Regions from separate parts of the Homo sapiens genome. Here region 1 is linked to region 2. The links come from fine-mapping of genetic effects on plasma protein levels. A gene starts in region 2. The other region holds a variant in brackets. All regions are shown on one strand. Distances are from middle to middle.

Region 1 (11,846 bases), 20 kb before region 2:
TGAGTGTGAATTCTCCCTGTACTTGTAAGTCCCAGCATTTCTGTATTCTCACGCTGGGCTACAGTTGGCCTTTAGCAATTCATTAAAACTTTTATCTGGATTCTTACAAGCTTGATGGGAGGGAAGTGGGGGAGTCGGCTCCAAATAAGCAAGTGCACCTGTGCTACATCTCCTTCAAGATGTCTTTCCTTAGATTAAGGTTAATTGAGTTGACCTAGAACTTCAGCTTGCTGACAAATTCAAGAAAAGTTGTGAATTTACAGTGTCTTGTGATTTCTTTTCTTCTTGTATGTGTGATTTCTTTTGTTGTAAGAGTGAAAGTAATGCTACTTCCAACTTTCCTTTCTAAGGAATCCAGAAGCCCGAGAAACCCTATTTTGTAGTTGAATCTCTGTTAGATGTACCTCAGTGTAATTCTTAACTAATACAGGTTCTAACTTCATTCATTTATCAAAAATAATGAAACCATGAGTACCTGAAGAATTGGAACTTTTTTATAACTTCAGGAAGAGAAAAACCTTTCTAAGTGTGACTTAAAACACAGAAGCCATGGCCGGGCACAGTAGTACATGCCTGTAATCACAGCAATTTGGAGGGCCGAGGCAGGAGGATTGCATGAGACTAGGGGTTCAAAACCATCCTGGACAACACAGGAGACCCCCATCTCTACAAAATAAAAATAAAAATTAGCCAGGTATGGTGGCACATGCCTGTGATCCCAGCTACTAGGGAGGCTGAGGTGGGAAGATCGCTTGAGCCCAAGAGATCAAGGTTGCAGTGAGCCATAATGGCACCACTGAAATCCAGCATCATGGCAACACAGTGAGACTCCGTCTCAAAAAAAAAAAAAGACCCACAGAAGCCATAAAATAAAAGACTAATAAATTCAACTACATAAAATCCAAAAATTTACATGTGGCAAAAACTCATTATAAATATCAAATGACAAACTGAGAAAAAGTATTTCTGATACATATATAATTTCTTAATATTAAAAAACACTTACATATCAATAAGTGATTTTTGCCCAATAATCTGTGAGCTAAGAATAGGAAGAGATATTTCACAGAAAAGAAGCAAAAAGGTGATTATCATACATTGAAACACATTTATAAATATATAAAATACAAATTTGCACTTCTCATATCGACAAAGATCAAAAATTTGATAATATTGAGTCAACAAGCATAGGAAGAGAGGCACCCTTACAGAGTTTTGGTGAGAGTGCAAATTCATACAATTGGTAGGCAATTATGCAATATCAACATTTAAAATACACACACCTTTTGACCCATTAATTCAACTCTTAGGAATTTCTCCTAGTTATATACTCATACCAGTGTACAAGAACTTATACACATGAGGTTCATGTCAGTGTTATTTGGTAGAACAAAAAAACTTTAAAGAAATATCCACGGATATAGGATTGAAAATAAGTCATGTTATAGTTTTACCAAAGAAGACTGTACAAACATTAAAGAAAATTATATACAGAAGATATATTCATAATAATTAAAACTAAAAGAAAAGGGAAAACAGTATCTAGCATGTTTCCATTTATGAAGAAAATATATCAATTTATTTATGCTTCCCATGCTAAATTAATTCTGAAAGATACAGGAGTATTGAGGAAACTCTCCAGGAAATTGATCTAGGGGCAAAGATTTCTTTGTGGAGCAATACCCGATAAGCACAGACAGCCAAAGCAGCAAAAGTGGACAAATGGGCTCACATCAAGTTAAAAAGCTTCTGCACAGCAAAGGAAACAATCAACAAAGTGAAGAGACAACCCCAGAATGGGAGAAAATATATTTACAAACTATTCATCTGGACAAGGGATTGATAACCAGAACATATAAGGAGCTCAAACAACTCATTAGAAAAAAAAATCTAATAATCCTATTGAAAAATGGACAAAAGATCTTTTGTCAAAAGAAGACATTTCTCAAAAGAAGATATACAAATTGCAAACAGGTCTCTGAAAAGGTGCTCAATGTCAGTGATCATCAGAGAAATGCAAATCAAAACTACACTGAGATATCATCTCACCCCAGTTAAAATGGCTTTTATCCAAAAGACAGGTAACAATGAATGCTGGCAAGGATGTGGAGAAAAAGAGAACCCTTGTACACTGATGGTGGGAATGTAAATTAGTACAGCTACTATGGAGACCAGTATGGAGGTTCCCCAAAAAAACTAAAAATAGGCTCACGCCTGTAACCCCAACACTTTAGGAGGCCGAGGTGGGAGGATCACCTGAGCCTACGAGTTCAAGACCAACACGGGCAATAAAGTGAGACCTCATCTCTACAAAAAAAAAAAAAAAAATCCAAAAATTAGCTAAGTGTGGTGGTGCATGTCTGTGGTCCCAGCTACCTGGGAGGCTGAGGCAGGAGGATTGCTTGAGTCCAGGAGGTTGAGGCTCCAGTGAGCCATGATCACGCCACTGCACTCCAGCCTGGGTAACAGAGCAAAAACCTGTCCAAAAAAAGAAAAAAAAACCTAAAAATACAACTACTATATGATCCAGCAATACCACTGCTAGGTATACAACCAATAACCAAAAGAAAGGAAATCAGTATATTGAAGAGATATCTGCACTCCTATATTTACACAATAGCCAAGATTTGGAAGCAAACTAAATGTCCATCAACAGATGAATGGATAAAGAAAATGTGGTACATATACACAATGGAGTGCTATTCAGCCATAAAAAAAGAATGAGGTCCCGTCATTTGCAACAACATGAATGGAACTGAAGAACATTATATTAAGTGAAATAAGCCAGGCATGGCAAAATAATTTTGCATGTTCTCACTCATTTGTGGGAGCTAAAAATTAAAACAATTGAACTCATGGAGATAGAGAATAGAATGATGGTTACCAGAGGCTGGGAAAGGTAGCGGGGTGAGGTGTGGGGGTTTGGGTGGGAGAAGGGCAGATGGTTAATGTATACAAAAAATATAATTAGATAGAATAAATAAGACCTAGTATTTGATAGCACAACAGGGTGGTTACAGTCAATAATAATTTATTGTACATTTTCAAATAACTAGAAGTATAATTGGAATGTTTGTAACACAAAGAAGCGATAAATGCTTGAGGTGATGGATACCCCATTTACCCTGATGTGATTATTATGCATTGTATGCCTGTATCAAAATATCTCACATACCCCATAAATATATACACCTACTATGTACCCATACAAAATAAAAATAAAACATTTTTTAAAAGAGAGATACACGAGGAAGAAAAATAGGAGGAGACAGGGATGAGAGACAGCTATACACTCTTCTGCCTTTTAAATTTTGTGCCATGTGTAAGTATGCTTACTTTAAAAAAAATAGTCTTAGGGATTGAAATAAAATAGATACAAAGGCCCTCCCTCCATCAAGAGGCCTCTATCCTGATCCTCCAATCTTTCTCACAATTGCTCTCCAGTCCACCCTTCTATATTCTGCTAGAGATACACTGCATTTGTTATTGCCAAATGAACTCCATGGCCCATTCCCTAGATTCAGCATGAGCTGGTAAGTTTTTCTCCCACCAGGAAGAGTCCTTTTACCCACAACCTGCACTGTTAAACTTAACTTCGACTACCCAGGAGCCCTCTCTGATGACCATGATCCTCACTATGATTTCTCTTCTCTGAAATGGAATGTTTGTGGCCAGAGCCTTACGAATGAGTATATAAGTCTATTTGTAGTGATTGTTGGCTCTTGCTTTGTATGAATTAGTCTTGTCTTTGAAACTACATTTTTAAGTATCTTGAAAGCAGAAAGCCAATGCGGCTCAAATGTCTTTGTATCCTCAACACTCCCCAGCTTAGGGCTGAGCACATATTGGGTGCTTACCACATCTGCTGGGTGGGCTGGATACTGAGGAAGGACCAAAGCCTCTTCAGAGATTTTCAGCCCAAAGGTTTCTTGGCCTGAGACCACCATTACCAGAGCAGAACTCTCTCAAGGAAATTCAGGAATACTGAGGTGTTGGTGGCATATCACAATATCTACAAAAGCTAGGCAGGTAAATCAATAGTCTGGCTATGGAAGTAATGGGTCCTGAAGCTGAATTGGAAAACACATGCCCTGCCTAAAAATTTACAAAATACAGATTTGAGAAAAATAAACAAACAAACAAAAAAAACATCCTCAGGCAAACAGCATACATCCAACCATGAACAGCAACTAGTCACTTGTGACCCACAGTCAGAAGCGGCCACTAACCCATCTCTGCAGGCATTCATCTCCCTGAGCATGAATGTGCCTCCATGGAAGGTAGCATTTACAGTCCCAACCCATCTGCAAGCTTGAGGCCACACAGACCAGATACGTACAACCACCTTGGCCTCTCCCTA[C/T]CACCCTACCACATCAGCCATGGTCCCCTTCCTGCACCTCTGTTACCAATCACCCATTGCCTAAAACATCAAAGATCTCCATTTCCAAGCCATAACCAGACTCCGCCCTCCCTAAATTCATGTGTGTTTCTCAGGTATATTACCAAAACTAGTGGGAGAGTTAGTGGAGGTTCCTCCGGCCTATCTACCCCTTCTTATGAGGTGACCCCTGTGCCAAAGCACTCAGTTTTCTGAGGACAGGTGACCATACAGTTGTGAAGGAGAGAGCCGAGGCATCAGGCTGGTATAGGGAGTGGAAAGTGAAGACAGACTAGGAAATAGACACTGCTTGTGGCACCTTCAGTCCCAGGCTCAAAACACCCTCATCTACAGACTGAATCACCACATGAGCTTCCCTACTACATGTACCTTATGAAACAGGAGGGCTTTGTGATGCAGTCTGGTGGCCTAGTTCCGTCCTCTGTGAGGTGGACATGACAAGGCCTAGCACTGGGATTCATTAGGCACCAGAACCCTGAATTCCGAGATAGAGGGATGGTTGATCTCATGCTAATGAAGTTTAGACCATGTTGAGCCCTACTTTTGTTCTGTGGGAAGTTGGATATCCCTTATACATCTATGGCTCCATCTTCATCGTTATTGTAATTATCTGGCAAGTGAAAAGGAGCCACCATGAATTGAGTTCAGAACCTAAAAGGAGCTGCTGCCGGGTAGGGCTGTGATCCCAACTGAACTAATTAAGCCTCAGATAAGAAGCCTATAAGTTCTTACCGTGCTCCCTTATAATCCCCACCCCAGAATTTTTATAGCATACTTTCAGTTACCTTTGTGTAATACTTTTCTTCTCAGAGACTATAATTCCTTACCAGGCCCTTCCCGCAACATAGTCTGATTGAAAAGCCAAGAACCTCTCTATTTGGTTTGGATTGAGAACTAGATAATATGAAGTCTATCTTGCTGGATCTCGGAAGCTCTCTGAATATGGGGGATTTTTCCGGTTGGTGGGCTTTGTAAGCAGAAGTCCTTTGGTTGTTAGAACCATTTACCCTTTTGTCTGTTCTGCTTTTCCTCCTGTGTCATCCTCAGCATCCAGCAGGACTTCTCTGTGAATCAGATGGGAGGTATAGAATTTGGAAAAGCCTCCAAGTGAATCCAAAATAAGCAGAGAAGGAAAATGGGGTAAAAAGGTGGAATAGGCAAAGGAAGTCCAGGAGAGTGTATAAAATACAGATAGATATATACAAAGCGAGTGAAAAATGTATGTAAGTTTTGTCTCATTTTGGACATGAGAAAGAAAATGGTGTCCCAGCTTCACATTCTAATGTTTTTGTCTTCTAAGTGTCACCAAAAAGTCAGGCAAAGAGCTAGAGATGCAGCATCAACAGGTAAAGTCCCAATCTCTCCTCTGACTCCCTTCCACTGTGGGTGTTTCCCATGAATCCTGTCCCTCTGTGACCTCTGGAGCCAAGAGCCAGGTGCTCTGCCACTGAAGACTCCAGTTCCCCAGACTGAAATTTCCATGGGTGGGAAATCATAACTTGAGAATGTTCCAAAATCCTGTACCTCAATGCCCTGGAAATGAAGAATTAAGAAAGTAGAGCAGATGTTCTTAATTGTATAACTTACTAGTTTTATGACCCTGTGGAAGTCATTTCATCTCTCATTCTTATCCACAAAATGAGCAAAACACTGACAATCCTGCCTCAATCACATTGTGGTTGTAAAAATCAAATGAAATTAGATATGGGACATTGTGTTACAGCGATGCTGTACTCAGACATGCCTTAGAGTACGGACTTTTCAGGATTGTAGTCTTTTCTTGATGAGAGTCAAAGGCCTTACTATTCAGCTTCCTATAGGATGCCTATGAAATTATCCCATGCCATATAACACTGTCTCCCCGTTCCTCAGCTAGGAGACGTTCCCGGGAAGAAGCTGAGAAGCCACAGAAGCTGCTCTCCATCATTAAAAGGTGATCTATTGCTCTTTGCACTCTATCAACAACCAGCCTGGCCTATGATGATTTCTTGGCTTGGCCTGGGGCAGGACTAAGGAGAAAGATAATGGCTGGGAGGGAGACATACACAGTGGAAGCAGGGACACTGGGTGAGAGGGTTGCCAGGGAAGAGTGGGGTTCACATGTCTCAGGAGAGATGAGCTGCCCAGTTCAGTTCTGTGCTAGGGTAACAGCAGTTCTACAATTCAGGATTTTACTAGTGTATAATTCATAAAACATATTACATGGAGCTGCACTCAGCCATGAGATAAGTTACCCAGTTAAGAGAATGGGTTTTGAATAAAGAAGTCATCCTTGTCTTATTCTCTTTATACTCTTTCAAGGGAATAAAGCTATACCCTTTCAAGGGAAAATACCTGACTCTGGCTAGACTCTGCTGACATGACCTCCTCCGGTTCTGTCTTCAGTGAGGCCAGTACTTGGGACACTCCTTAGACAGGAGTCTATTATATTATCCTCTCCTTAAGAGCTCTAGAGAACAGGACTGGTTCCGAAGAGATGCTGGGTATAACATTACGGGTACCAAATACCCCAGAATGCAGAAGTCCCACAAGGACCTCATTTTCTACAGCTTGGAAGTACTGAATACAGGCTTTGGATTTCTTAGCCTCAAATAAGACTGGTCTGGGTTCTAACTGGTGATGTTCCTGGTGATGCCCCATCAGCTAACTGCCTAGCTCCATTCTCCTAGTTCAGCTTTTCAACAAGGTCAACAGAGAACTGACTCCAACTCCCAGCCCTCTCTGAGGGCCATGCCCTCCCATGGGTTGTCTGAGGCCTTGCCCAACAAGCTCCAGACCATCAGCCCAGCCCACCACACCTTGCCAAATGGCATTTTCTTAGCAAGGAAAGCAGACAGGTAGACAACAAGATGGTATAGGCCCCAGGGTTTTCAGGACTGGGAAAGGAGAGTGCCCACTCCAGCCCACACTCTTCCAAGAAGGCAGATGTCACTCCATCGTTAATTTTGCCGTGTTTCCCTTCCTAGCCAGGGCTGGCTTCCTCTGGAGAGAAGTGTGCGGCGAATCCTGTGTGCAGATCCCTGCTGCCAAATCTGCAATTCTGTGGCTCTGGAGATTCAGCAATTGCTGGTGGGTGAGAACAACCAGATCTCCCTGACTTTATCGGGGCCATTGCAGGGCTCCTCTTGCCTAGAGATGCTGTCTACGTCTAGTATGTCTTTAGATCAGAGTCTGGAGTTTCATTCCTGGCACACCAGAGAGCTTTCACTGTCATCTGTAACCCCAACACTGTCACAATTAACAGATCAGAAATCTTTAACCCAGTCAGCTGCCCAGTCAACGTATGCAGATGGCATACAAGATTACTGGGCTGATCACCTCCAGCTAGGGCAGGAATTTCAAGTGCCAGATGTGCTCCGGGGCCCAAACACCATAGCTTCTTCAAGGATTGAGAAGCCAAGGGCTCCACTGAACCAGGAGGAGATGACGCAGAGCAACCCCAGCCTTGTCCAGGGAAACCAAGGCCAGCATCACTTGAATTCCCAGGTCTCCTTGCTGTCCCTGAACCCAGAAACCCTGAACCGGATGCATCCAATGGCCTTGCATATGGTCCTCCCTGCCCACCTGCCATTTCTCAGTCCTGAAGTGCTGAGGCTTCTTGAGGTACATGTTAAAAAATGGATGCATTTCCAGAGGTGGGGGCTCCCAAGACGTGTGGAGGAGTCCCTGAGGCAGCTTATGCCAAACCCACCATTGTATTACCAACCTGGAAATGACCAGCCAGTTTCTTTCAACCTGAAGAATACTCCTCAGGTCTCTCTTCATAGATTTGAGACCATTTCCCTCCAGACCTGGTGTTCATGTGTGGCTGGCCAGCCCATCCAGACCTTCTGGGTTTCTGAATGGTCCACAATGAACCCAGAACAAAGACACCACTGTCAGCAAACTCCAAACCCTATGGCTCTAGCCTTGCCCTCTCCAGCCCTTAAAGCCCTAAGTGGCCCCCATCCACAGTCTGGGGGACAAGATAATGACTCAGGGAGTGATCTCCAGCAGAAATACAGCCAGCTATTCTGTGGGCTCCCTTCTCTGCACAGTGAGTCCCTGGTTGCCACTTTCATGGGATCTCAAGGCCTCCCCAAGATTGAAAATGTGCCCAAGCCCCCCTTGAAGGATCCTTTTCTCTTCAATGAGCTCTCCTTCCCCCAACTGCTCCCTAAAACTTCACCCCAGTCAGCCCCACCCTCTTCCCCACTTTCCCCAAACTGGATGTCTCCATCTGACCATCAACGAGCTCAGATCAATGTCCCATTTCTGACTCTGGCTGAGTATGAAGCCTTGGAGTGGCACCTGCTACAGAGGCAACTCCAGCTTCAGTGGGGCTGGCCAGCTGCCCTCCAGAGGTCTCAGCACACCCAGTGCCTCATGCAGCATGAGCCCTGTGGCAAAGCTCAGTCTCCTGAGACCACGACAGCTTCCCAGACAGGGAAGTCCATCTCAGTGCTCACCAGGGAACTACTCTTCTTCCCGGAGCATGCCCGGAAGCTGCTGGAATTCCACATCCAGAAACAGTTGATTCGCCATCGCTGGGGCCTGCCTCAGAAGATCCAGCAGTCCATCCAGTTGCTCCTTACCTCCACTGATCAGCAGACTGTGTCCAGCAGCAGCACAGCCCTAGCCAACGTGAGCATCCCCCAGCCTGTAGCCCTAGAGGCCAACGGGGCTTGCGATGTGCTGTCACCCATTGCGGCCCCAGTGTCCATCCCCAGGCCACACTTGTTAACTCAGGTCAAGGCAATACTGCAGAGCCACATCGACTCCAAATGTGGACAAATCCACCAGGGCAAGATCCCCGCCTGTGTACACAGGTCCTGGGACTGCAGAATTTCTGGGGTCCTGGCAGTGGCTCCTTTTCCCTGCATTCCAGAAAGCCAGTTCCTGGAACTGCAGACAGCAAGTGACCCGGACCTGCATCACAAAGTTATGCCCTGGATGCCAACGGCCCTTGATCAGCAGCAACAGGCTTTACCAGGTACTGTCACTGAACACCCTAAGCTGCTCCGAGTCTTGTCTGTGGAAGCCATTGAGAAACTGGAGACAACTTTACGGCACAAGCATCTGGCCTTCCTGTCGGGGCTGCCTGCTCTGTATTATGTGGCGCTCCCCAGGGCCCTGGCCCCGGCAGTCACTAGCCAATCTGTCATCACAGAGATGGAGCCTAGTCCCGTGGAAATCCCAGCAGAGCCTCTGATTCAGATGGTTTCATTTGAAGAACAGTGTATAAGTCTTGGGCCATGCCCTCAAGGCAACAATGAGAGTTGTACAGACGTTGCAAAAGAGTTCCAGCCTGCAGTGCCAGTAAAAGGAACAATGGAGACGCTGCCTCTAGAAAGCCAGACGCATCCTACTAGCCCCCACTCACTCCAGACACATATCTTGACCAAACTAAACTTCCACCTGAGAAAAAAGGTCCTAGAGATACAATGGGGAATTCCCATTAGGGCAAGGAAGTCCAGGGAACAAACTGTTGCAGCACCAGAGAACATATCCACACAGAAGTCTCTTGAAAGTCTAAACCACCAAGGGGAGACATTGCTCCAGGAACTGCCCATCCCACCAGACACTCTTCCTGCCCCTAATCCAGAAGGGGTTCACCTTAAAGAACAGCTGGCCAATGACTTGAAGGCAGTGCAGCAGAACCAAAAGCAATCCAATTCCAAAGCTGTACCCCAGGGTTCTGCCCACTCGGTCTCCAAGATCTCACAGCCCAGTGGGGACATGACAGAGGCCCACATGCCTTGTGTTCAGGTAGAGGCCAATGTGAACAAACCCAGCCTGGAGGAACCCTGTGGCCCTGAGCCTCAAAGCCCTAGCAAGAGCAAGGACCCAGCCCATGTCCCCATGCTAGCAGGAAACAGAGAGGACCCAGAGGAAACCAAAGCAGCCAGGGACCACAGAGAAGGGGATGCGGGGTTTGGGCGCTCCTCAACCAGAGAAGAGAGACGCCCTGCTGAAGACCAGAGGCCAGCAGGGATGCTTCCAAACAAGACACCCCGAGGGTCCTGGCGATGGAGCCGTAGCTTTCATCTTGCTGATCCCTGTCAACACAGCCCCCAGCATCACCCTCAGCTTAAGCTCCCACAGCTACCTCCACGAGTCCCTGGGGAGAAAGAGTCTGAGAAGGACCTGCAAGACAGTCAAACCAAGCTAACTGTCATCCTTGAACCAGCGACAATTCCTGAGAATGCCCAGACTGTGTTGCCCCAGGCTTCACAGGGTCAGCCTTTCCTGAGCCAACCAACTCAGGCTAAGCCTTTGCAGGGCCAAACTTTGCAAGGCCAAGTTTTGCATGGGCTGGTGATGCCAGTCCATGCTCAAAAGAAGCCCAGCCTTACAGAGTCTAGCTTCAGAAATAAAATTAAATGTTTTCTGCAGCATATTAACCCCAAGACAAAAGGCAAAGGGCATGAGGACTCCATGTTCTCAGCCGCTGCGAAGGTGGCCAAAACCAGAAAAGAAAATGTTGCAAAGAGCCTGGCTCCAGCCAAGAGCCCTGTGGGGAGAAGTAAGACGGAGAAGCCGACAGGGTGCTCCAAGGCCCAATCTCGTCCTGCTCAGAAGCTGGTGGGCCCAGCCTTCTTGGATGGTCCCCAATCCCTAGACGATAAGCTCCGGCTACACTCCAGACAACCTGGCTCTGCCTCAGCCCTGGGCTACCCCCGCCACTGCCCTCGTCACTGTCCTCGAGAGGCTTGTGCCAACAAACCAGGGCACCCAACCTAGCTCCTGACCCTCACCTCAGATAGAAACATTGGTCCGCTCAAGGAGAACATGCAGAGCCATGAAAAAGAGTTTATAGGCTCCCCAACTGCTGCAGCCCTCCAGAGGACCAGTATTGTCATTTCCATAAATGTGCAGGTGGGACAGATGCCACTAGAAATACACTCTATATTTCTCAGCAATACATTGTCTGTCTGCTCCTTGTCTCTGCTGTATTGTGTTAAGGGAAGGTGTGAGGGAGGCTAAAAAGTCCTTCCTGTCTAGGGAAGGAGCTTTAACTTACCTTTCAGATGGGTCACCATTCCACATCAAAGAAGAAAAGCTTTTATCTAGAGTGCACTGAAGTTAAAGGTCATGCTTGATTTCTGAACATTTACCATCCATCCCACCAGAATATTTTCCACTGTCCCATAACTCCAGGGCCTAGGAGAGTGGCTAATGCATAGTAAGACCTTACATTAGTTGAATCCAAAGTCAGGGCTGTGGAGACAGACAAAGCATTGATCATTTTAATGGGGCTATGAGGTGTGTGGTAGTGCCACAGGAGGAAGCAATCAGCTGGTGAGGAGGAACCCATAATAAAAATTACTTTGAGAAGCATCTTGTTTTCAACAATTAAATATCTGAGTGTTTATTACGTGCCAAGAACTATGCAAAACACATCAATGAACATGACACAGGCCTTGACCCAGTGGAGCTCATGATCCCATGGGGTCGACAGTCTATT
Region 2 (11,846 bases):
TTCACCGGCTCTGTGTCAATCTAGAGTGTGGGATGGGGAGCAGAATAGGCCCAAGTGGCTCTCCCAGCCCCACCCCACCAAATGCTTAGAATTACCTGCAGAACTTGGTAAAAATACACATTTGTTGGCTCTATTCTGAGATTCTATTTAAGGCGGTCTGGCGTGTTGCTTCTAATTCTGTTTTTAAAAAGTCACCCAGGTGATTCTGAAGTGCAGCCAAGTTTGGAAGCAAACTAATATAATATGACTTCGGAATTATCTGCATGCCCCCTCCCAAGCCCATGCTATTCTATCTGTCTGAGAATTCCTCAGAGACAGGCTGCTCACTACTTTCTTAGTCACTCCCATTAGGCAGGTGGGGAAACCAGGGAGCTGGGAATTTAAAACTTTCTGGTTCCAGGATCTGCCTCTAGACCAGGTAAAAGATCCAAGAAATCTTATCTCCTTGTTTTTGCCTAGTCTTGTTCCAGGAACACCAGCTTCTTGCCAACAGAGTCACTCCCTGCCCTGCTTAAGGTCTCAGCCTTAAGGTCTCTTGAGTCTGAAAACCTCAGACTCAAGAGCTCAATTATTTCTCCTCTAGGCCACCAAATTCCAGCCCCTCTACTCTGTGGACCTTAGAATGAAACACCACCTCTTTATCCCCCTCCCAACAGTACCTCCATCTTCAACCCCATGCCTTCTGCATCCCATCCTTCCCCAAGAGCAACCCAATATTTCTGTCTCTGGCCATGGCTGTCCTGACTACATCTCTCCTGACACTCATTTCCTCCTCTTCCTATGGTTTCCCTATCCTGTCATAAGCCATCCTTCAAAAAACAAGATGTAAGGAGCTTGCTGCTGAGTTTAGCACTCTGGAAACCAGATGGATTCTCCAGCTCTGACGTGAGGATTACAACTCTAAGGTCCCAATCCAGTATTAAATATAGATTCTAAGTTATGACCCAATAACCCTCACACATCATATACCATAATAAACTCCAAATGGATAAAAGATTTTAAAATGTTAAAAATTAAACTACAGAAAAACATCATACAAAATGGCAGAGTAAGAAGTTATAGGGGTTGGTCCCTCCACCAAAGCAACTATTGAGGTGGAAAGAGCAATTGGAATCGACTCTTTCAGAAGTCTGGAGCCCGATTGGACACTTATAACAAGCAGGGGGGGTGGTACTTGATGAAGGGAGAGGTTGCTGGTCTTTCAGAAGAGAGCATAATGCATGCACTAGCTACCAACCAACACAGTGGGGATAGCAGCCCACATTCCTGAAGTAGCTGGGTGGTCACTGAGTGGGCAGGGGGAACCCTGTCCTCCAAAAATGAGGGGTTTTGCATTTGGGTTTGTCTTCTGGTTCCCTAAGGGACAGGCTTGCTTTGTTTCAGCCCTCTTGGGCTTCAGGATCTTCCTGAGCCACATATATCAGAAGATTTAAAGGGACAGAATCTTTTTGCGGGGAAGGAAGAGAACCCTTTGTCAGGTCATAAACAGAAATTTCAGTAACCCCACAAAACAAAGAATACACACTTTGCAAAAAACCGTTTGAAAAAGTCACCACAAATTGATGGCAGAGTTCTCAACAAGTGTATATCAGCAATCCCTAAGGAGTGAAAAAATTGAATTTCTAGAGATACCACACTGTAATATTCAGAATGCCCAGTTATCAACAAAAAATTACTAATACAAAGAAATAGGAAAGTATGGCCCATTCACAGGAAGAAAGGAATTTGACAGAGACTATCCCTGAGGAAGCCCAGATATTGGACATAGTAGATGAAGACTTTAACTGTCTTACTGTAAATGCTCAATAAATATTGATGATGGGAGGTTTGATGATAAGGGTGAGAAGCTGAAATCTCAAATACTGCTTTGTTGCTTGTTTTATTATGACCTCAAATTAAATTGGGAAACAATGGCCCTTTTGGAAAAAAAAAATAACTGTCTTAAATATGCTCAAAGAGCTGAAGGAAACCATGGGCAAAGAGTTAAGGGAAATCTGAAAAATGGTGTATGAACAAAATGAAACTATCAATAAAGAGATGGAAATTAGTAAAAAGAAAAAAAGGACTCAAGCAGAAATTCTGGAAGCAAAAATACAATAACTGAAATGTACAATTCACTAGGGGCAATCAACAACTAATTTAAGCAGAAAAAAAAGGATCAGTATTCTTGATGATAAGACAATTAAAATTATCAAGTATGAGAAGAAAAATAAACGAGCCTCAGGGATACCATCAAATGTACCTCATCACAGGAGTCTCAGGAGGAGAAGAGAGGGAACAGGGCATTAAAAAAATTGAAGAAATAATGACAAAACATCTGAAATCTGATGAAAAGCATGAATATACATACCCAAGAAGTTCACAAACTCTAAGAAGGATAAACTCAGAGATCCACACCAAGACAAATTATAGTCAAATTGTTGAAACCCAAAGATTTTAAAAGCAGCAAGAGAGAAGTAACTCATTATGTACAAGAGATTCTCAATAAGATTACCAGCTGATTTCAGAAACCATGGGAGGCCAAAAGACAATGGGGGATATATTTAAAGACTGAAGAAAAAAAAAAGTCAAACAAGAATTCTATATATCCAGCAAAACTATGCTGCAAGAATTAAGGAGAAATAAGACATTTCCAGATAAACAAAACTTAGGAAGTTCATTAATAGTAGACCTGCCCACAAGAAAAGCTAACGGGAGAAAGAAAAAACAAACAAACAAACAAACAAATGCTAAAGGAAGACCTTCAGAATGAAACAAAAGGACAAAAAATAATAACTCACAGCCACACAAAGAAACAAAGATCTCTGATAAACATAACAACATAGCAGGCTGGGCGCAGTGGCTCATGTCTGTAATCCCAGCACTTTGGGAGGCCAAGGTGAGCGGATCATTTGAGGTCAGGAGTTTGAGACCAACCAGGCCAACATGGTGAAACCCCATCTCTACAAAAAATAGAAAAATTAGCTGGATGTGGTGACAGGTGCCCATAATCCCAGTTACTCGGGAGGCTGAGGCAGGAGAATGGCTTGAACCCGGAGGGTGGAGGTTGCAGTGAGCCAAGATCACGCCACTGCACTCCAGCCTGGGCGAAAGAGTGAGACTCTGTCTCAAAAAAAAAAAAAAAAAAGTAACAACATTGCCAGGTATGCTGGTTCACACTTGTAATCCCATTACTTTGGGAGGCCAAGGCGGGTGAATTGCTTGAGGTCAGGCGTTCGAGACTAGCCTGGGCAACATAGTGAGACCTCGTGTCTACAAAAAATACAAAAATTAGCCAGGCATGGTGGCCCCACTACTCAGGAGACTGAGGTGGAAGGATCACTTGAGCCCAGGAGGTCGAGGCTGCTGTGAGCTGAGATTGTGCCACCGCACTCCAGCCTGGGTGACAAAGCGAGACCCTGTGTCAAAAAAAAAAAAAAAGATAAAAGCTAGTATTGTATTTTTAGTTTGTAGCCCCACTTTTTTCTATATAATTTAAAAGGAAAATGCATTAAACAATAATTATAAATCTATGTCAATGGGAACACAATGTATAAAGATGTAATCTGTGACAATAACAATATAAAGAAGGGACTAAAATGTATACGAGCAAAATGTTTATATACCATTGAAACTAAGTTGGTATTATTCAAACTAGGTTGTTATCAGTTTAGAATGTTAATTATAATCACCAAGGTATCCATTAGGAAAATAACTACAAAATATATAGAAAAGGAAAGCAAAGGGGAATCAAAATGGTTATGCTACAGACCAGGTGCAGTCGCTCATACCTATAATTCCAGCACTTTGGGTGGCCAAGGCAGGAGGATCGCTTGAGCCCAGGAGTTCAAGACCAGACTGGGCAACATAGCAAGACCTCATCTCTAGAAAAAATAAAAATGAAAAATGAAAACAGTAGCCGGACGTAGTGGCATGTGCCTGTGGTCCCAGCTCCTCAAGAGGCTGAGGCAGGCAGATCATTTGAGCCCAGGAGCTCAAGACTAGCCTGGGCTAGACATCGTGAAACCTCGTCTCTACAAAAAAAAAATAGAAAAATCAGCCAGGCGCAGTGGTGCTTGCCTGTAGTCCCAGCTCCTGGGGAGGTTGAGGTAGGAGGATCACTCGAGCCCAGGAGGCGGAGATTTCAGTGAGCCAAGATCAACCACTGCACTCCAGCCTGGGTGACAGAGTTAGACCCTGTCTCAAAAAAAAAAAAAAAAAAAAGAACTCTTACAATTTAATAATCAGATTTGCTGGAAGGAGGGGAAGGGTATGGATCCTGGAGCGTAGTGAGGAGACAGTCATGGTGTTCCAGGGGAGAGGCAGTGAGGCCTGCATGAAAGCAGTAGCTGGGAATAGAAGGAAGGCTCAGGCCCAGACATATTCAACTAATGAGGACATAAAATTTGGCAGCTGAGGACTGTCCACTTAGTTTGAGATAAGTGGGGCTGGGTGCCAGCAAATCCAGCTTTCAGGAAGGAAAAGGAGTGGGGATAAGTTAAGGGAAGTGAAAGTGTCTAGCTACATAAATAGCAGGCCAATCCCAGCCCACGCACAGACCCCCAACTTGCAGCTGCCCACCTCACCCTCAGCTCTGGCCTCTTACTCACCCTCTACCACAGACATGGCTCAGTCACTGGCTCTGAGCCTCCTTATCCTGGTTCTGGCCTTTGGCATCCCCAGGACCCAAGGTACCAAGGCAGGGAGGGGCCTTGCATGGGGCTAAGGGGATCAAGAGGCCTGGATAGGAGCTTGCCAGCAGCCCCTGGCTCCCTGTGAATCCCACCCTGCAGGCAGTGATGGAGGGGCTCAGGACTGTTGCCTCAAGTACAGCCAAAGGAAGATTCCCGCCAAGGTTGTCCGCAGCTACCGGAAGCAGGAACCAAGCTTAGGCTGCTCCATCCCAGCTATCCTGTGAGTGGACACAAAGGGGTGGGTACTGGCTGGTGACGGGGTGGGGAGGGCATGGTGGGCAAGACTAAGAAGGCTTACTAGCCCCCACCCGCAGGTTCTTGCCCCGCAAGCGCTCTCAGGCAGAGCTATGTGCAGACCCAAAGGAGCTCTGGGTGCAGCAGCTGATGCAGCATCTGGACAAGACACCATCCCCACAGAAACCAGCCCAGGGCTGCAGGAAGGACAGGGGGGCCTCCAAGACTGGCAAGAAAGGAAAGGGCTCCAAAGGCTGCAAGAGGTGAGGAATCTGAGGGATGTGGGTAAAGGGGAGCCTCAGTCAGCCCCTCACACCCCTCTTCTGCCCTCACAGGACTGAGCGGTCACAGACCCCTAAAGGGCCATAGCCCAGTGAGCAGCCTGGAGCCCTGGAGACCCCACCAGCCTCACCAGCGCTTGAAGCCTGAACCCAAGATGCAAGAAGGAGGCTATGCTCAGGGGCCCTGGAGCAGCCACCCCATGCTGGCCTTGCCACACTCTTTCTCCTGCTTTAACCACCCCATCTGCATTCCCAGCTCTACCCTGCATGGCTGAGCTGCCCACAGCAGGCCAGGTCCAGAGAGACCGAGGAGGGAGAGTCTCCCAGGGAGCATGAGAGGAGGCAGCAGGACTGTCCCCTTGAAGGAGAATCATCAGGACCCTGGACCTGATACGGCTCCCCAGTACACCCCACCTCTTCCTTGTAAATATGATTTATACCTAACTGAATAAAAAGCTGTTCTGTCTTCCCACCCAAGTACCTGTTCCCATGTGTTTATGTCCACCGAGATGCCAAGGTTCCTACAGGGTGGGGTCACACACTCTGAGCCGAAAGCTCAGGCTGAAAAATGCTATGTTCTCATCTACCCCAAGAGTTTCCTTGCCTCTCAGGTGCCTGCACCCCTGAGCAGTTAAAGGGAGGCTGAAGGACAGGGTAGGACCCAGTCTTCTGAGGCATCCTGCCAATGGAGAGGTGGTGGACATGGAGCACACACCCCCAACAGCTCTGCAGACCTCTGAGACCCTGATTCTGTCCTGCACTAACTCCAGGGGTGACCTTCGGATCTTTTCCATGACCTTCAGACCTTTCCCCAGATATCCCAGAGGCTTCCTCTCTTTTCCCTGGGAACTATTCAATGAGACCCTCCAAGTGGTTCTTTGGAAGGGTCCCTAGGAGGGAAGCTGTGGCTTGGGCCCATCTATAACACAGACAAACACAAGTTATATTGAAACCTGCCCTAGCACAGTTCCAGCCCTGAGAGAGCCCCTGGGAGGCAAAGACCCGAGGGGACTTGCTTCAGCCCTATTCAGTGAAGCTCGGGCCTTGACCTCTCCTCTTTGTTTAATGGGGCTGTTGTGCTCTCCTTCTATTCCTATCTGGGCCCCTGGACTCACTCAGCCTCCTTCCAGATGGAAAAACCTCCTCCCTTTTTTTTTCCTCCTTTCTTTCCTGGCTGGGATCCAGACTACTTTAGCCCATTTAACCCTTTGAAGTCAAGGAATAAGTCTCCTGGGGCAGGTTTTCAGAACCCCAGGATTCAGGTGTGAATCAGTCTCCTCTCCTGGAAGGCCTCAGATGGCTCTCCTCTACCTCTTCCTCCCCAGAGTGAAGACCCTTCTATTCCCCAAATCACCTCCAGGCGGGGAGAGTAGAAGCCATCAGATTGGGCCAGACAATGTGAGAAAGAAGGGAACAGATCCTGGGGAAGGGCAAGAAAGGTAGGAACCTCAAGGCCGGGCGCGGTGGCTCAGGCCTGTAATCCCAGCACTTTGGGAGGCCAAGGCAGGCGGATCATGAGGTCAGGAGTTCCTGACCAGCCTGGCCAACATGGTGAAACCCCGTCTCTACTAAAAATACAAAAATTAGCCGGGCATTGTGGCGGGCGCCTGTAATCCCAGCTACTCGGGAGGCTGAGGAAGGAGAATCACTTGAACCCAGGAGGCGGAGGTTGCAGTGAGGTGAGATCGATTGTGCCATTGCACTCCAGTCTGGGCGACAAGAGCAAGACTCCATTTCAGGAAAAGAAAAAAAAAGGAGGAGAAGAAGAAGAAGAAAGGTAGGAACCTCAGAAGCTAGAAGTGGCTGCTCCATCAACTTTTCCTTCTGTAGGAGCCTGAGTATGCCACAGCACTTACCACCTATCCTAACATCCTCAAGTATTGGCTTGTCTGCTCCTCTTGCAGCAGGTGAAGACAGGGCCTCTCCCCTGCCTGTCCTAGGGCAGCAGGTGTGAAATTAATCTATAAACTCAGATATGCAAGAAATACTACTTTTGAAATGTTCCTTAAATGAACTTAATTCCTACTCCAAGCTACTGCACTAGAGTGCTGATGAGAAATTCAACATCAGGCACTCTTGTGGGATCCCACCTGCCAAGGGTTATGCAAAGGTCACAGAAACCTCAAGGCCCAAGGGAGGCCTCCTACCTGCCTCCTACACCATCCTATCATTGGACATCAGTCTCGCCAGTGAGTGTTCTGACCCCTGTGGTTCCAGCAGGTATATCTCTTCAAGTCCTAGACTCCACATTTGAGACATAAGAATTCAGATATGACAGCCTCTGGGCTTGGACTTGACCTCCCCAGATACCCCCGAAGCCATCTACTCAACAGTCCTGTCACTTGCCCCATCACAGACAGAAATTAGAGCCCAGTGCCCACTCTGGCTGGATGTACACACTAATCCCTTCGCAGTCCTAAACAATTGTCTCCCTCTCCTCAGCCCCTCCAGGGCATAACCTCTTCCCCAAGTTTACAAGTTTACTTTTTTTTTTTTTTAAGGCTTGCTTTGTAGTCCAGGCTGGAGTGCAAAGGTAGGATCATAGCTCACTGTAACCTCAAACTCCTGGGCTCAAGGGATCCTCCTGCCTCAGGCTCCAAGTTGCTGGGATTACAGGTGTGAGCCTCTATGCCCGGCATTTTCCCCTGGTGTAAGACATTTACAAAAGGCCTTTGACGTCAGGCTCCCTTTGACATCAGGACATCACTCCCAGCCCTGCCAAAACTCTTGCCTACTCTATAGTGAAAAGAAAAACATAGGCAGAAAAAACAAAACTCTCTATTTCACTAAATTCTCCTGCCACACCTGCATGCCTGGTATTTGCCTCAAGCCCTGCTCTGAGTAAGCATGCAATATATTATTTATTCCATCAGATCATGACTGGCCACTCTCCTTGTCTGCCTTCATCTTTGACAACATTGTCCTGTTCTTTCTCTTTTCTCTCTTATTCTCTTGATGCATAATTCAAAAAATATCACATAATACACACTCACAGTTAAAAAATATATCCAAAAGTACCAAAAGGTTTATTCTGAATAACATAATTTCCTACAACTTTAACTCCTATGCTATTTCTTAGTGCCATATGTCTAAGTACTTTGCCTATACCTCTGTTTCTTGATTTACCTATTTTAAACATTACCAGATGACTTCCTACTATAAAAAGTGAAGATCTAACTCTCTTGCCAACTCTCCTCTCCTGTCACTGCATCCTCTAAATATAGTCATACCATAATATTTAGATCATGATTATATTACCATATTTAGATCATAATTACAGTTTATATTATTGTGGATTACTATTACATAATATGTATTATCACATATTACATTATTTTGACTATATAAATGTTCTCTGCAGACAAAAGTAGTGCACTTTTCCTTCGTCACTCATCTTTTTGTTTTTCTTAAAGGTTCTAATGCCCTTCCCTTTTTAAAATACCTCTATCTTGACATTGCCTTTCAAATTCTTCATCATATGAGATGGATTCAAAACATAATGTTTAAGATATACGTAGAAGAAAATATAGGTGAATGTGGTTATAACTTCGAGGTATAAAATAACTTTTTTTTAAAATAAAATGGAGACCAGGTCTCACTATATTGCCCAAGCTGGTCTTGAACTCCTGGGCTCAAGCGCTCCACCCGCCTCAGCCTCCCAAAGTGCTGGGATTACAGCCATGAGCCACTCTGCTTGGCCAAAAAGAGTTTCTTAAACAAGTCATAAAACCATAAAACGTAAATCATTAAAGATCAACACCATTAAATTTAAAAACAAATCGGAGTTCAGGGTAGGGATGGAAAATTAATTACATGCCTTTATTTTCACTTCTCACTGAGCCCCGACTAAAACTACAGTAAATTTTTTTGGTGCATGTATGCGTGTAAAGGCATAAAGCAAGGCCAGGCGCAGTGGCTTACGCCTGTAATCCCAACACTTTGGGAGGCCAAGACGCTCACTTCAGCTCAGGAGTTTGAGACCAACCTGGGCAACACAATGAGACCTCGTCTGTACAAAAAATAAAAAAAAGTAGCTGGTGTAGTGGCATGTGCCTATGGTCCCAGCTACTCAGGAGGCTGAGGTGGGAGGATCACTTGAGCCTGGGAGCCATATAGCCTGGGCTAAAAAGTGAGAGACCCTGTCTCAAAGTAAATAAATTAATTTTAAAAATAAAATAAAGGCATAAACCCCCAAGAGCCCAAATGGGAGAGGAGATAAAGGTAACTTTCCAAAAGCCTACTGCTGAGACACGTAAATATTTCAATAAAAATAGATACAAAGCATAAAATCAAATTATAAATATGAAGGATTTCTAATGTCTTATTCGTGAATACAGTAAAAATTCATATTTACTGAATATTCATATGCCAGTATCCAACAGGGAAACAATGACTTCTACTAGAGATGTAAAAAAAAAAAAATCCTAAAGATGAATTATCTCTAAAATCTACAAAATCTTCATTCCTTAAGCATGAAAACTCATTTTAATCCCTGGAATCCTGACTTTTCTTTATCACAGAACCACAGAAGCAATTTATTGCTTTAAAAGTGAGTTATCACTATGTTCTAACAATGAGTCCTCCTCAGTGTCATCCAGAAAATTACTAATACCATGTATTTTTGTTGTTTTTATTTGCTCCTTTTTTGAGATAGGGTCTTGCTCTGTCACCCAGGCTGAAGTGAGTGGCGCAATCTCAGCTCACTGCAACCTCAACCTCCTGGGCTCAAGCAATCCTCCCACCTCAGCCTCCTGAGTAGGTAGGACTACAGGCACACACCACCACACCCAGCTAATTTTGTTCATTTTTTGTAGAGACGAGGTCTCACTATGTTGCCCAGGCTGGTCTTAAAACTCCTGAGCTCAAGGGATCCTCCCACCTTGGCCTCCCAAAGTGCTGGGATTACAGGTGTGAGCCACTGTGCCTGGCCATACCATGTTTTTAAATAATTTCACCACTATCTCTTCCACAAAATGATAACATACACACACACACACACACACTAATGAAATCATGGGCTGACTCCCACTTGTCAGTGTTGCCTCAGAATCTCCTCCTGCTTCTCCCGGTTCACTCCTTCCTTGTCAATATTTTAAGGGCTTCTTTGATACAGATATAGAGGATAGGTGGGACTAGTAAAGAATTAGAGCTAGCTGGGCATGGCAGCTCACGCCTATAATCCCAGCACTTTGGGAGGCTGAGGTGGGCAGATGGCTTGAAGCCAGGAGTTTGAGACCAGCCTGGGCAACGAAGCAAGACCCCTGTCTCTACAAAAAAAAAAGAAAGAATTAGCCAGGCACGGTGGCACAGGCCTATTGTCCTAGCGACTTGGAGGCTGAGGTGGGAGGATCACTTGATTGCCTAGGAGTTCGAGGCTGCAGTGAGCTATGATCACACCATAGCTGATCATAGTGGAGCAATACCCCACCTTTAAAAAACAAAAAATTAGAGCTAATAGATCTCAGGCCAGGAACCGTGGCTCATGCCTATAATCCCAGCACTTTGGGAGGCTGAGGTGGGAGGATCTCTTGAACTCAGGAGTTCGAGGCTGCAGTGAAAAACAAACAAGCCTCAGTTAGTCCTATAAACCTGAAACCAATTCCAAAGTAAGCAGTCGGCCAGGTGCGGTGGCACACACCTGTAATCTCAGCTCTTTGGGAGGCAGAGGTAGGAGAACGGCTTAAGCCCAAGAGTTTGAGATCAGACTGAACAACATGGCAAGGCCCTGTCTCTACATTTTATTACAAGAAACTTTTTTTTAAGTGAAAGCAAGTTTATTAAGAAAGTAGAGGAATAAAAGAATGGTTACTCCATAGGCAAAGTAGCCTACAAAAAAACTCTTAAAGAGTAAGCAATCAGATTTCTTAAGAACCCCTCCCTTCAGGATACTTGGGCCACACTTTGGCTGGCCACAATTCCTACTTATTAATGATATCCTTTTAGAGGGCTGTGATTACCAACAACTGTCGGGTTCTTTCTTTTGATACCTTTCTTTTAAAAATTAAAAATAATGGGCTGGGGGCAGTGGCTCATGCCTGTAATCCCAGCACTTTGAGAGGCCGAGGCGGGTGGATCACCTGAGGTCAGGTGTTCGAAACCAGCCTGGCCAACATGGTGAAACTCCATCTGTACTAAAAATACAGAAATTAGCCAGGCATGGTGGTGGGTGCTTGTAATCCCAGCTATTCGGGAGGCTGAGGCAGGAGAATTGCTTGAACCCAGGAGGTTGCTGTGAGCCGAGGTCACACCATTGCGCTCCAGCCTGGGCAACAGAGCAAGACTCCGTCTCAAAAAAAAAAAATTTAAATTATGGGGCTACCAGAATGACACACTAGGTATCCTCTACCATGCCAAATGACCTAGTGGGAGTCAGAGGGGTGGGGTCTGTCACTTGTTGTCTATGAAAGGTGACATTAATTTGTTTCCCAGCTATAATCGCTTACCTGTGAAATATGTCTTAAGCTTCAGCTGGTATCCTTTGTGAAGTTCTTTTTCTTTCTCACATCCAGGCATTACTTCTCCTTGTATCTGGGGACAAAATAATGCTGTTTTGTTAAAGTCATCAACGTTTCTATCCTTTGCCATCAGTCTTGGGCTGGATTACCATTTTTATGGATGCTGAAATTGCCAACTCTCTTTTTTTCTAACGCCTATATTT

Direction of the effects. Positions count from the first base shown, and alleles are read on the strand shown. Strength reflects both the effect of a copy and how common the allele is.
For the plasma level of the protein whose gene starts at base 4,534 in region 2, T is the high allele of the variant in region 1 and C is the other (weak association).

Evidence for each region. A credible set is the group of variants that fine-mapping cannot tell apart. PIP is the posterior inclusion probability: the model's chance that the variant is causal. The UK Biobank Pharma Proteomics Project read protein levels with antibody pairs (Olink). The fine-mapping took linkage between variants from a reference panel, not from the people measured, so its PIPs are less certain.
Region 1: its variant is the best candidate, but not a certain one, in a credible set for the plasma level of the CCL21 protein (UK Biobank, PIP 0.83).

Annotation. Positions count from the first base shown.
Region 1 is chr9:34,722,508-34,734,353 of GRCh38, reverse strand. It overlaps SPATA31F1 (SPATA31 subfamily F member 1), which reads left to right and starts at 4,866. Exons shown (of 4, transcript NM_001141917.2): 1 at 4,866-5,070; 2 at 5,700-5,745; 3 at 6,272-6,332; 4 at 7,366-11,301. The coding sequence starts at 4,927. The coding sequence ends at 11,122. It also overlaps a transcript of PHF24 not described here. The variant C/T (reference allele first, on the strand shown) is at 4,361.
Region 2 is chr9:34,702,824-34,714,669 of GRCh38, reverse strand. It overlaps CCL21 (C-C motif chemokine ligand 21), which reads left to right and starts at 4,534. Exons shown (of 4, transcript NM_002989.4): 1 at 4,534-4,670; 2 at 4,773-4,893; 3 at 4,988-5,170; 4 at 5,243-5,665. The coding sequence starts at 4,604. The coding sequence ends at 5,276. It also overlaps a transcript of PHF24 not described here.